Regions from separate parts of the Homo sapiens genome. Here region 1 is linked to region 2. The links come from fine-mapping of genetic effects on gene expression. A gene starts in region 2. The other region holds a variant in brackets. All regions are shown on one strand. Distances are from middle to middle. Region 1 overlaps SH3TC1 (SH3 domain and tetratricopeptide repeats 1). Region 2 holds the start of SH3TC1 (SH3 domain and tetratricopeptide repeats 1).

Region 1 (4,373 bases), 20 kb before region 2:
ACATTAAGGAGGCAAGACATGACGTCTGAATAGAACACGTGGTCTGAAATTGTCATTGTCTACAAAGGCCATCATTGTGGCTCCTGGCAAAATCTGAGTAAGATCTGTAGATAATGGCATTGTATCTGCGTTCATTTCCTGATTTCGACAGTTGTACTGTAGTTATGTAAGCAGATGTCCTGGTTTTAGGAACCACATACTGCATTATTTAGGGGTAAAGGAACATCATGTTTGCAACTTACTCTCAAAGTGTTTAGAAAAAAATAGAAGTGAAAGAGAGAAAGCAATAAAGCAAATGTCATAACATGTTAACATTTGTGCAATCTGGGTGAGGGCGTGTGGGAATGTTATACTCTTTTTGCAACTTTCTTCTAAGTCTGAAATTGTGTCAAAAATAAAGTTAAAGAAAAAAAAAAAGAAGAGCTACCAGGTTGTTCACTAAATAAAAGATGAAAACCCCGGGTCTGGAATAGGAAAGATATTCAGCAAACATTTGTTGAGTGAATGAGAGAAGTCAGAATTTCTCCAGCTGTGAACAGGACTAATGGCACCCAGCCCCGTCATCCTTCTGGGTTAAAGGAAGGGAACAAACTAGCTCATTCCCTGGCTCTTCTCTGACCCCTTGTAAGTTCAGTACATGTTGACTTCACACGGCCCCCAGTGACCTGTTGAGAATTTGTGGTCTCCCTTGGAGATGGTAGGGATCAGCTAGACCAAGGATCCCCAAAGAGTGTCCCATGGAACACCAGCTCAGCCAAAAGCAAACAGGGTTGTGGAGGATTCTGGAGGTTAAGTAAGTGTGGAAAAGGCATTTCAACAGGAAAAAGATGCCTTGTTTGTGCTGGGAATCCCTGGGATCACCCACAAGGGATGTGGACAAAGCTTTTCCCCACTCCTTAGGGCATGATGAAGTCTATGATGGAGCAGTGTGTGAGAACATGCTTTGGGAACTGCTGGTCTAGCTCCTGCCATCAGTGCATGGCCTGGCCAGCTTCCAGCTGCTTCTGATGCACAGGTGCCAGAGGTACCAGAGCAGACGGACCCTTTCCATGAGGGGAACAAGTGAACGGCTTGATGAGGCATGGTGACAAACGGCCTCTGAGACCTGGTCTGAGAGGTGTTGGTCTGTCGCAGCCCTAAACATTGAACAGGACCACTGAAGACAAGCATCTCATTGGTGGGGCCAGGACCAGGATCACATGACCCAGAAGGTGGCCTCTCCATGCACCCACATTCTCTGGGCTCCTTGACTGAGGTCTTAACAAGGACAAGGCCAGGGAAACAGAATTCCATCAAAGGATGGGCACAGCTGACTCCTCTCCAAAGACCCCCTGCTGCTGCTCGCACTGGGCAGTGAGAACACAGAAGTGACCAGGGAATTCTTCTCTTGGAGTTCCCTGGCTGGGAGCAGGCAGGTCATGGGTGGCGTGTAAATCACATAGGAAGAGGCGTATGGCCAGAAGAGTGCCCCCCCCAGAGGAGCCACGGGGGCTGATGGAAGGCCCCAGGAGAACACGGGGTTCAGGGAGAGGGGGCATCCCAGGCAGAAGGACACACGTGTCACCCAGAGCAGTTTTGGAAGGCACAAGGTACTCTGTGCAGCCCATGGGGGCCTGCAAGGTCGGGCCCAGAAGCTTCCTGGGGCTTAACGGAGGAGAGCGACGTGTGTACTGGATTAAATCGTGTCCCTCAATTCATGTCTCCCGGAACCTCAGAAGGTAAGCTTTCTTGGAGAAAGGATCTTTGCAGATGTAATTAGTTCAGCTAAGATGAGGTCAGATTGGAGTTGGATGGGTGCTAGGAGATGGGCACCCTTTTAAGAAGAGAATACGGAAGACACACAGAGGAAGACAGCCACGTGGAGACGGCGGCAGAGTGCAGTGATGTGGCCACAGGTCAAGGAACGCCCACGGCCACCAGGAGCTGGAAGAGGCAAGAAGGACCCTCCCCTAGAGTCTCCAGAGAAAATGTGGCCCTTCTGGCCTTGGTTTTAGACTTTTGGCCTCCACAACTCTGAACAAGCACATTTCTGTTGCTTTAAGCCCCCGGCGTGCAGTGCCTTATCACGGTAGCCACGGAAAGATGATGCACATGGGCAGGTGTGCATTCGAGGGAACGCTCTCCCTGCAGCAGCCCGGAGAAAGGACGCCAGGGAACCCTGGAGTCAGGCACTGGGGCCAAGGGGGCAGCAGCCTGAGGACAAGGGAAGAGACTAGGCATCGTCCACAGTGACTTTCAGGCTTGTTACCTGGGGAGCCAGGTGGACGC[A/G]GCAACGTCCCCTTAGGTGAGATGGGGGTGGGTTCAGGAAAGGGGCGGGGCTCCAGCCACTCACTCGGACACGGGGCCCTGCATGCTGATGAGGCTGCTCCGCACAAACCCCACCCGGCCCGAGGCTGCGTGTCGGCCCACGCACCAGGGCAGGCTGGGCACCTGCGCCCCAAGGATCTCGATGAGGTCGCCACCTCGGAAGGTCATCTCTTCGGGCCCCGAGCCCTGGAAGTCTGCCAATGCCGAGGCCAGGCCCACAGCTGCGGAAGAAAGCCACATGGTGAGTGCCAGGGAGACCAAATGGGGGCCAGAGCGGGCAGACAGGGCCGATGCCAGCCACCCTGAACCATGGGGAATTCATCTTTTGGTTACTAGGAGGTTCGTAGTAAAGCTTGGTTTCCGCAATGAGGGAGGGAATGTCTACGTGGTCCTCAGAGGGGATGTTTTTATCCCTCTGTTGAAGATGAGAAAAATGGAGGCTCAGAGATGTTGATAAATAAGCCTCGGCCATCAGCCTCCAAGGCCAAGGCTCTTTCCTCCTTTCCTTCTGCAGCCACAACCCCCGGCCCCACCTACTCCCCACCCGGCTCCTGCATGGGGCTTTAGTCCCCCTGACAGGTGCGCAGGCCACCCAGACACCGGCAGCTCTGACAGGTGCACAGGCCACCCAGACACCGGCAGCTCTGACAGGTGCACAGGCCATCCAGACACCGGCAGCTTGCCACAGAGCACAAAGCGCTGGACCCGGCATCCAAGGAGAAGGGCTGCTGGCAGTGCCAGCTTTTCATAAAGAGGACGCGGTCACGGTCCTCTGTTAGTGCACGTGGCAAATTCAGCCAGCGCCAGCCCACCTCGGCCCAGGGCCTTCCAGGCGTTTCCCATGGTGACAGAAGGCTAGACTCTGAGACTGTTGGGTTGCACTGTCTGAGAAGTGGCGTTTGGGAGCTCTTTGCAGACAGTGGCCGGGGGCCCTGGTGCAGCTTCACTGAGCATCCTATGACGCTGCACCAGCCCCCAGAGCTTCCTGAGTGTCAGTTATGACCTCACAAGCTGGAGAAGACTCGGTTGGTACAAAAGTAATTGCGGTTTTTGCCATTGAAAGCAATAACAAAAACCACAATTACTCTTGCACTACCTGATAGCTATCTCTCTGGCTCAGGGAGGATGTAGGGCAACTTCCAAAATGTTGGTGCTGCTCCCTAGCACACACATTTCCCCAAAAAAGAGAGGCCCATGGAAACACTTACCCATCAGCGGGTTGCCGGGCATCACAGGGCCACCCATGGCATCGTCGATGGGGTCCTGGGGGATCCTAAGAGCCCACCTGGAGCCGGAAGAGGGAGGTCTTTGCTGCGGGATTTCAGATTTGGGGCAGATACATCCTGTGCAGAGACTGGACAGGCCAGCAGCCCCCAGCAACCTGAGCAGGTCCCTCGCCTCCCCCAACACACACACGTGCACACACACACACACACACATGCCTGCCCAGGTGTGTGGCCTTCAGGCCCCGTGCGTGTGGCACTGCCCCCAGGGAGCCCCGCACCCCTCAGCCTAGGGCCCGTGTCCTGGAAACACCGCCACCCCTGTGGGCCTGGAACCCTGCAGACCTCCAAAGCACCTGCCTCCCCCAGCTCCACACAGTGAGGGGTGAGGGAGATCCCAGCCTGGGGCTCTGGAGGCCTGGATTCAAATCCTAGTACCACTGTGACTTTGCCATATAACCTGGACAGATCACTCCTCTCTCAGCCTCAGTTCCTTCAGCCAGAAAAAAAAGGAAGCTGGACTAGATGACTGACAATCCCTCTTTCCCAGATGGCAGAACACTCTCAGTGTCCCCTGTTGGGACACCACTGGCCAGAGCACATAGGAAGGATTCTTAGGAGAAGCTCCTCTTGGGTCTCAGTAATGAGAGAAGCCAAGCCACAGCCTGTCACTTGAGACACTGCAAATCAAGAGATTGAGGTTCTCTCTTTGCTTTGGCTACCAGGAAGCTCCAACCCAAGTTAATGCCCCCCGCTTCAGCAAGTGAACAGGAGTTTGCATGTCACCTGTCCTCACATCCCCTGGCTCTATCTGTGGGTCCCGTGTGCCTTCTCACTCTGGAT
Region 2 (4,336 bases):
GGCTGTCTTCCCATCTCCTCTCCGGAAGCACATGGAGGCGTCTCAACAAAGCGCTGGAATCCACTCCCTGGGCATGCGAGCTCCCTGGTTTAAGGGGTCTTTCGCTCCGAACGCCTGACCTTGGAGTCCTTGTCCTCCCATCTCTGCCTTTTTGTCCCTCAGAAGCTGGGTCTTATGTCCCTATAGGCAGAGCAGGAGTCCCAGCAGCCTCTCTCCATCCACTGGCTGATGCCCGGGACACCTGCCTGCCTCCCAGCCCACCACCTCCCCCTGGGTTAGGAACAGGCCTGTTCGAAACGGCATCCAGGGCTTCTCCGGGCCTGGCACACAGCTGGTACTCAGAGACTGTCTTCTGAGAAAAGGAGGGCTCCCCAGGCTCAGGGAATTTCCCACCTGCTGTTATAACCCTAAGCGTGGGATTCCTGTGCAGAGCCTGGCGATGAGGAAGTGAGCTCCTTCTCCACAGCGTCCCCTCCCTCAGCCCTGCAGGCCCAGCCACCACTGCACAAGCAGAGGCCCCAACCACGGGCAGGTGTTGACGCCCCCAGGGGCCAGCTCACCCAGCTGGGGGACCACCAAGCAGCCTGCAGGACTCTCTCCTTCCTGCCTTCATCCTGTTTGTTCAGTTTATCATCAGGACAAACCCTTGGGGGGCCCTGGATGGGTCAGAACAGGCTCCAGCCCCAGGCCAGCCTCCAGCCCCGGGGGAAGGGGTGGAGTTTGGCTCCAGAACACGGAGACGTGGGGCCAAACCCCGGTGTCTGGGAGGCCTCTCCATGCCTCAATTTACTGAGCCAGAAAATGAGAATGAGCACGCACACCGCACAAGTGGGTCGAGTGGGTTAAAGGGACAGTGCTCCTGGTCCACAGTCAGAGTTTGGTGAATGTGGGTTGGAAGAAGAAGGGAGAGGGCCGCGGCCAGCCCTGAATGGGTTTGGGAAGCTTTGGCCAAGCTTTCGCCAGGCTCTTACGGAACAAATACTTCTAGGGCCATTGAGACCTCACCTATGCCACCAAGCACCTCCGGAGGGTTGGCTTGTCACCTCGCATCCTGGGGTGACACTGTCCTTTCAAAATTCATGCCCCCAGAAACCTCAGAATGGGGCCTTATTTGGAAATGGTCTGCGCAGATGAAGCGACCTTCCCTTGGGATGAGGGTGTTCCAGATGAGGATGGCCCTAAATCCAGTGCGTGGTGTCCTTGTAAGTAAAAGAGAGGACACGGAGACACACAGAGGAGCCGGGCAGGAGGCCATGTGACCACCAGGGCGGAGAGTGGACTGATGTAATCACAGCCAAGGAGCGCCCTGAGCCACAGGCAGCGGGAAGAGGCAGGGAGGAGCCGCCCAGTAGCCTTCTGAGGGACGCCTTGAGTTCGGAATTCCGACCTCCAGAGCCGCGAGAGAACACGACCGAGAGGGCTGTGTCCTGCGCTCTGGCAGCAGGGGAAACCGGCGCACCCGTGCGCTGCTGGGCCCTGCCTTGCTCTTCTGTGTTGTGCGGCCATCGTCACCCGTGTTGCTGGAAGAGTGAGTGACGTCTCCATGCAAAAAACGCTGGCCCAGCGCCCCACACGGGACACAGTTGTCATCACTGTCAACAACAGTGTTGACAGTCACATAATTATGGCCATCCAGGGTGCTCACAGCATCCTCGGCTCACCTGGAGGAGGGAGGCACAGCTGTGCCCCTTTCACGGATGAGCCATCAGCTGCGGTGACTCTGCCTGCCCAAGGTCACACAGCCAAGCAGCACAGGTGGGGTTGAACCCAGGTGGTCAGAGCCCAGCCCCCACATACCCATCCTAAACCCAGACCTGACTCGGGCCCAGCCTTGCCTCCAGCCACAAGCTCAGCCGCAGCCCCGCTGCCTGGCGCTGGGAGGCCACACCCTGAGTGGCCGGCCCACATGCAGGCTGCCCCTGGCCCTGGCACTGGCCGACACCGCTAACACCCCCCAGCGTCACTTTGCTATTCATCTCATCTGAGCCTCGTCAACGGCAAAAGGTTGGAAACTCCCGCTTCACAGACAGGGCAGGGCTCCCAGGGCTCCTGGGGATCACGCACAGGCCCAGAGGGGGTCTCAGTGGTGTACACACACAGGAGCACACGCCCCGGCACACCTGCAGTTGAAGGCTGGGCCCAGACCCTCCCTGGAATTTTCAGGCTGAAGCCCCTGGTCCAGTTGCTGGTCCATTTGGTTGTTGGAAAAGAGGCCCAGGTGGCGGCATCAGAGTGGCCAGTTATAGCCACTGCGGTGCCGGGTGAGGCTGAGGCGCTGGGCTCGCCCTGGTAGGTCTGGTAGTGTGGCCCAAGCTAACCGGGCGCTGGGGTCACACCTGAGATCCGCTGGACTTGGAATCCAGCGACAGGCTGGCTCTGCTCCCAGACCCCCAGGGCCGCTCATGCCAAGGGCCAGCACGGGGTCAGGCCAGGTCCCAGAAGCAAGGGTGCTTGGTCAAAGCTGAAATCATTGCCCTCAATCACTGCGGATTGGCACTGCCAGCACCTGTGAGCTCTGAGTGGGGTCTGCTGAGGGTGCCGACGACCTCCCCGAGGCCCCCAGCTCGCAGTTTCGCTCCACCCCCATCCCAAACAGGTCAGAAAAGTCCTCAAGAAAGTGTAAAGATCCAACCATGGCAAGACTGGCAGACAGCAGCCTGCTCGGCCAGTCCACGCCCCGCCTGCCCCGGAGCCCCCCATACCTGCGGCGTGTTCCTCAGAGGCAGCTCCCAGGCCCACAGGGCCGTAGCACGCAGGAACCAGGTGGCCGCTCCTGGCCCAGCGCTGGCTGGCCCCACGGGGCTGTCTCCAGCTGGACGGAGCAGGCAGGGGCCGCCCACAGCCAGGCTGACTGCACAGCGGCCTCCGCCCCCTGCTTCCTGCCCTACTTCCTCCCTGCGCCTGAGGGCCGGTGACGGAGAGGCAGGCCCAGGGCGGCTGCACAGACACCGCAGCCGGTTGATCATTAGCTCTTTCCTGGACGAGGTCCAGGCCCTGTCCTGCCTGCCCGCTGCCCAGCCCCCAGGCTCTGTAGTAGAGGCTAGGGGCACCCAGTCCCCCGCCAGGCTGGGATTGGGGAAGTCCACCAGCCACCGGCTGCCTCAGCCCTGCCAGCCTCAGCTCTGATCTCTGTTCCTCTTCCATTTACTGCACACACACACACACGCATGCCTGCACACATACATGCATGCACACACACACGCATGTGCATGCAGACACACATACATATGCATGGGCACACAGAGACTCACAAGCACAAGTGTGTGCACACATGGACAGGCACACGTATGCACACAAACGCTCACGTGCAATTTCTTCCGTCTCTGCCCGGGTGCCCTCCGGGCCACTGGCTCCATCAATGGGAACATTTAGGGGAAGAGATGGGCTCCCCTCCTCCTCACCGCAAGCTCTCCTTGCTAGCCTGGCCTGTCCCAACGGGTCTACCTCTTTACCCTCCCACCGTCTCCAGGCCTGAGCCAGGTTTGAGAGCAGAAACCTTCCCAGCCAGGCAGACCCAAGGCCAAAGCACGTAATCTCGCCCCTGCCTGCTGAGGAAGCCTGGCCTGGGCTCACGTCAGCTGGGACAAGAGGCAGAACTGAACTCAAATTGCCCTGTTGGTCCCGCCTGTCTGCCTGCTCTGATGCCCTTGCCAACACAGGAGTGTGAGCACCCACGTGGTGGGTGTGGGCTGCGGGCTCCGGCCCAGCTCTAGGAAGTGGGAATGGGAGGGATCCCTCCAGCCTGTGCTGTGATAGGTCGGAGCTTTACACACACCTGGTTTGAGAAAACCAAGAATAATCCCTAAGTCAAATAGTTATGTATCCATCTCACAGACAGGAAAACTAAGGCTCAGGGAGGTAATGTGACATGCCCAAGGCCAGTGACCAACAAGAAGATAAGACTGGAACCAGGTCTGACTGGTTCTGAAGGCTTTAGGGCTGGGCTTTTCAACCAAGGCACTACCGACATTTGGGGCCGCATCCTTCTTTGTTGCAGGGCGGGGGGCTGTCCTGTGCACTGGAGGGTTTTAGCTGGTCCCTGGCCTCCACCCACTGGATGCCAGTAGCCCCCTCCTCTAATCATAGCAGCCAAACATAGCTCAGATATTGATCCCCTGGGGGTGAAGTCACCCCAGGCTGAGAACTCCCAGCCCAGGTGAGCTACTCAGGTCAAAGCCCCTCCAGCCCACACCTGCGTCCTTCATCCTCGCCCTCCCGTCCTGTTCACCTTTCTCTAATCACAGGCTCTGCCCAGGGGCTGACGCTTACCTCAAGTCCCTGCATCCTGCACGGTGAGCCCTCAAGTCACACCCTCCCTCCGCCCCACTGAGGCCAG

What was found. PIP is the estimated chance that this variant, and not a neighbour inherited with it, causes the effect.
Region 1: its variant is the best candidate, but not a certain one, in a credible set for the expression of SH3TC1 in visceral fat (GTEx, PIP 0.87).

The regions. Positions count from the first base shown.
Region 1 is chr4:8,217,490-8,221,862 of GRCh38, reverse strand. SH3TC1 (SH3 domain and tetratricopeptide repeats 1) reads right to left here. Exons shown (of 18, transcript NM_018986.5): 8 at 3,516-3,592; 9 at 2,333-2,528. Among named protein-coding and RNA genes, the nearest start is that of SH3TC1, 20 kb to the right of the region's middle. The variant A/G (reference allele first, on the strand shown) is at 2,269.
Region 2 is chr4:8,197,772-8,202,107 of GRCh38, reverse strand. SH3TC1 (SH3 domain and tetratricopeptide repeats 1) reads right to left here and starts at 2,818. Exons shown (of 18, transcript NM_018986.5): 1 at 2,703-2,818. RefSeq lists enhancers at 532-741, 1,472-1,621, 1,752-1,801, 1,932-1,981, 3,012-3,131 and 1 more and a silencer at 2,612-2,801.